Linked DNA regions of Homo sapiens: region 1 is linked to region 2. A link means that fine-mapping ties the variant in region 2 to the expression of a gene that starts in the linked region. Tissue or cell type: whole blood. Region 2 holds a variant in brackets; the other region holds the start of a gene. All regions are shown on one strand. Distances are between the middles of the regions.

Region 1 (2,500 bases), 180 kb before region 2:
CACCTGAGAAGGCGGGCTGGGGGAAGGCACCCCGGGAAAGAGGTTTTCTCGGGTGCCAGCACCCGGAGAGAGCTACTCTGGGGCCAGGCAAGCATCCCGCCTAGGCTCCCTAGTGCATATTAGTGAGTAACACGACTGGCGCGCGAGGTGGTCCATTTTATTTTTGGTAGCTAGACGCCAATAGGACGCACCACTTCAGCTCCAAACGGGAACTGGTGGCCCCAAGATGTTTTCTTTTCTTTTTCATTTTTTTGAGACAGGGTCTCGCTCTGTCGCCCAGGCTGGAATGCAGTGGAGAGATCTCAACTCATCGCTACCCCCTCCTTCTGGGTTCGAGTGATCCTCCCACCTCAGCCTCAGTAGCTGGGACCACAGACACGCGCCACCACGCCGGCTAATTTTTATATTTTTTGCAGAGAAAGGGTCTCGCTATGTTGCCTAGGCTGGTCTCGAACTCCTGGCCTCAAGTGATCCACCCGCCTCGGCCTCCCAAAGTGCTGGAATTACTGGCGTGAGCCACCGCGCCCGGTCTGCCCCCAAGACTTTCATTGAAAAGATGGAATGGTCGCTTCTGTGCGGATCCTCCAAACCATCGTTGGGAGAGGCCTCCTTAAAGTCTAGGAGAAAAGTTGTTTGGGACCGATATGAAAGTAAGGCAAAGCCGGATGGAAGAGAGTAGCCGAAACAAGCAAGAAAAGGAAAAGCGATCGTGATGGGTTTAGGAAAGGTGATCTGGCGTGCTAAATGGCATTTCCGGAGAAATCTGAAAACTATTGCTTTACTGAAGTATAGCAAAGAGCTGTCCGGGCTCTGGAAACTCCTTAACGGATCAAAACGGATGCAATGGGTATCCTTCTCCAAAGACACACCTCAAACGGGCCGGGAGCCGGGCAGTTAGCCACCCGCTGCCTCCCCTTCCGCAGTCCGGCTCGCAGCCGCTCAGCTACCTCTAAAGCCCGGAGCAGGAAAGTCCGCGCAGGCCTGGATGGCCCGGGTGGTAATCTAGCAGGCCTGCACACTGCGCATGCGCAGGGGGTGGACTGCCAGGTCGGCTCAGGGAGCCGTGACGAGTCCGGAAGCGCCTGCGCGCGCTCCTCCGTACGAGAACTAGTTTTGTTCCGTGCCCTCTGGACTGGAACCTTTTGGAGAGAACCCCCGGCAGGACCAACCCCGCACCCGCCAGCACCGCGGCAATGTCCAGCAATAGTTTTCCTTACAATGAGCAGTCCGGAGGAGGGGAGGCGACGGAGCTGGGTCAGGAGGCGACCTCAACCATTTCCCCCTCGGGGGCCTTCGGCCTCTTTAGCAGCGATTTGAAGAAGTGAGGAGAAAGGTTTGGGTTGCGGGGATGGGAGGGAGGAGCTGCGGACTCGGAGGAGTGGGCGCCAGGGTGGGCTTCCTGGAGAGGAGCGGGGTCGCCCTGAGGTCTGAGCAGGGCAGGGCGGTAACGTGTCCCGCGGGTGGGTAGGTGGGGTTGGTTGGCGGTGGTGGGAGTTGTGGGAGTTTGGGGCGAATGTGTGTAGGGGTCTCTAGTAGTTTTCAAACTTTAGTGAAAAGGAAACCACTTGGTGAGCTTAGATCCCACCCCTGAAGACACTGATTGAATTGGACTTGGGCTGGGCTCAGGAGTCTGAATTTTGAGCATCGTCTTCTAGTTTATTTACCGTTCGCCGGATCAGACTTTAATACATTCCCTGATTAGGGTGAAAGGAGTGTTTTGGTGAAGGTGAGAGTGCGAGTGTTGCTTGTGGGAAGTTATTTTGTGACCCCGGAGTGTAGGAGCAGAGAGGTGGATTTAGGCTGTTTGAATGGACAAACTGGTTTACACCAGTATTAATGTTCTTGGATTATGTCCTTTGCACTACAGACAAAAACACCAATCCAAAATAAGCATATGAATAGAAAATATTTTAAAAGAGTGTTACTGTGAACAAATCCAAAACTTTTACAGATTAATAATGTGAATTTTAAAAACGAATGTTAAACAAGGTACACTTAGTTTTGTAAAAAGTATCACCGAGAAATGGAAAGAAATCCCAAGTTGTTTGTTTTGGGGGGTGGGTTGGTGGTAGTGGTTACATTTACCAGAATTATCATTTTTACATTTCTCTTATTTTAAATCTTTCATTACTAAGCAATAGGGTCACATAATAGTCTGTCACTAAATTCATGCTAAATTAAGGTAGAATAGCTGTGCTAGTAGCTTTGCAGATCTGTTAGAGGGTATAATTAAAATTTAAATTAAACGTTACTAACAATATTGGGTAGTCTAGAAAGTGCTACTACTTCAAATTGGGATTACATTTTGGCTGTATTGAGGATCAAAATCATATATATAGCATGTAAGATACAATCTTTTCCTTTTTCCCAAGGTTAGAAAAGTTTAAAAGTAAGGTAACTGATTTCATTTTTCATTATATGCATTTGATGATCCATTGTTCTAGAACAAGTACGGAGCTTGTTGCCTCTACTATTAGCAAAATGTTTAGACTGAATTAAC
Region 2 (2,761 bases):
TGCAAAGTTTGTTTGCTGGGGGCAGGGTGGAGGGGCAGTAGAAGCAAGGTAACGAGTAGTCCAGGAGAGAAGGGTGGGTCAGACCAGGGTAGCTACAGGATTTCTTGATGGCTTAGATGTTTAGGATATGAGAAAAAAAGAGAAGTCAAGGATTACTCCAGGATTTAGGCTGTTGAGATGGTTAGGGCAATTTATTGCCTACACTAAATATTTTCTTTTCTTTCTTTTTTTTTTTCTCTCTTTTCCCTCAGTGTCAAGCTATCAACTTGTGTTTGTTATTGCTGTTATTGTATCTGCTTCTAGTTTCGCTCACCTATTTTAGGATATATTACTTTTGTTTAAATCTTCTGTGGGCCAAAAAACACAAAAGTTTTAAAAATTGTATATTTAAAATAAGATTGTTGGTTTAACATAGGGCCTCTGAGTGAGAGTTTGTGTTGTTGTATTTAGGAGTAAAGTGAATCAGCCTTAATGCCAGGACTTCTAACAGTTGCATTCCCTGTGGAGGCCTTAAGCTTGCTTTTGAATTCAGTTATGTTGTTAATGATTAAGTTTGCCAGAACTCTAAATCTCTGAATGAGAATTCATTTATATTTACTTTATTTGTTTAAACAGGCAAAAGAATGGACCCCAGCAGGAAAAGCAAAGCAAGAGAATTCTGCTAAGAAGTTTTATTCTGAATCTGAGGAAGAGGAGGACTCTTCTGATAGTAGCAGTGACAGTGGTGGGTTTTATAATTTATTGGCATATATTATTTACATAGTAGATTACATTCTATATCTCAGAAACAAGGCCTAATCCATAATATTCAGCAGGTAGTTTTAAGTGAAGTTTGTATTATCAAAATAATCCCTTTCATTTATATATCACTCTTTAGTTTTCAAAGTAATTTTTAATTACTAAATTCTCTTTTTACTTTACAATATCTCTTGGATAGTAGCTGATACATTGGTATAGCTGAAACAGGAACTCATACTTTTCTGAATTCTAAACCACAATGCCTAATATATCTATTGAAAAACATAATTTTACACTTGATGAACTTTTAGTGGGGTCTTTAAAAGTAACTTTCTTTTACAAAAACGTAAAGTTTATTTTATACCTTGAAGAGTCTTTTTCTCTTTCATTTTATACTTATCTCTTTCTGTGAACCTCTATAGAGATAAAGCTAAAATTATTAAGTCTCTATATACTATAAAAAAATCAAACTAAAGGTTGAGGGTAACTATATGCAGTGAAAAGAATGCTTAATAGGAAGGATTTAGAGGCCCTGGCTTTTACCTATGCAAATTGAATAAGGCACCTACTTTTCTCTATATCAGATAAATGAAGGGGTACAGTTAAATATTTCTTAAAGTCCCTTCATTGCTAAAAT[TC/C]TGTGAGTGATTTGCATAATGAAAAATAGATTGTAGTCACTTTCTGATGCTCTTATTAACACTTAAGCTAATAGGCAAATCTGACCCAAGACCAAACGACACCCAACTTTCTCTAAAATCTTTATTCCTTGGAGAACCAGGGCCTGTCACTCTTACATGGTTATCTGCTACCCTACTGTAAGGTAATTCACTCTTCTTTTCTCTGTCTTCCTTATCAAAAATCTTTGTTTTTAGTATCTGATAAATTAATCTGTGATACATTACCTGTAATTTCTTTCATTGTTTATAGCATAAGCCAGTTATCTGACTTAATATGTATGTGCGTGTAACTTGGATATTACCACAAATCTAAAATGTCCTTATTTAGTAGCTTTATTTTAGTAAAATAAACTTTCCTGTTTGTAAATGATGATAATGATGAGTGCCTTACCCTGTGGCAGACCCTGTTGTGTTCTAATCTCCTTTGTATGTTTCAAATCATTTAATCTTCACAACAGCTCTGAAAAGTAACTAGTGTTATCCCCATTTGCTGAAAAGGAAACCAAAACCCAGAGAAGTTGAATAACTTGTTCAGTTTTACAACTGGCAAGTAGAAGAGCCAGGATCTGAATCCGAACACTAACTTGAGAACCCATGCTTGTACCCCTTGTAAGCCGTCTTAAAACAATACAGGCAGTCCTAGGTTTTCACTGTGATGGACCTTCCTGATGTTGGTATTATTTAACCATTAGAATGTTTAATTAAAGGTTATGTTCCTGCCTAAGAGGGCTTCGTTACATAGATCACAGGCAGGGCAACAGTTTGTCCTTTTGTCTGGGACACAACTCTGTAGTTATAGTCATTTTAAATAGTAAAAATTATGCTTCACTTAAAAAATACACATATATTCTTCATGTATTCTCTTCTGCGAACAGTCCTAGCATACCATAATTTACACATAAAACATTTAAAAGTATAATTCCTCAGTGTAACTTGATCATCTCTTTGACCTATGGAAAACTCGTTTACTAGCTCGAATAAGTAATAACTCTTTAATTAGTCATTTTGCCTATTGTCTTTGAATTTGGAGGTCTTTCCAAGTGATTTGAATGGCTCATTTTCCTCTCAAAATTTGTTCCTAAGAAGATTCAACTGTTGCCTTCTTTTACTCTAAATAGAATTTCCCATTACAAGCAGAAGAATTCAAAATTATTTCTTTAGCCTTACATCAATCCTTACGTAATTCTTTAAAAGAAAGTTTTTGACATAGCTATATACTTTGGGGTTTGAAGTGAGATTCCCTCAAATTTGGTTTACTTGGTTCACCTTTGCTTAGCTTTTCTCTCCTCGTTGTCAGAGCATCCTCTGTCTGCCTCCCTCCAAGCTCACAGTGCTAAAGGAATCCA

Evidence for each region. PIP is the estimated chance that this variant, and not a neighbour inherited with it, causes the effect.
Region 1: AP3B1 starts here. The variant in region 2 is fine-mapped to the expression of AP3B1 in whole blood (TOPMed, PIP 0.93).

The regions. Positions count from the first base shown.
Region 1 is chr5:78,293,273-78,295,772 of GRCh38, reverse strand. AP3B1 (adaptor related protein complex 3 subunit beta 1) reads left to right here and starts at 1,075. Exons shown (of 27, transcript NM_003664.5): 1 at 1,075-1,321. The coding sequence starts at 1,194. RefSeq lists an enhancer at 239-812.
Region 2 is chr5:78,114,089-78,116,849 of GRCh38, reverse strand. It overlaps AP3B1 (adaptor related protein complex 3 subunit beta 1), which reads left to right. Exons shown (of 27, transcript NM_003664.5): 18 at 616-724. Among named protein-coding and RNA genes, the nearest start is that of AP3B1, 180 kb to the left of the region's middle. The variant TC/C (reference allele first, on the strand shown) is at 1,376.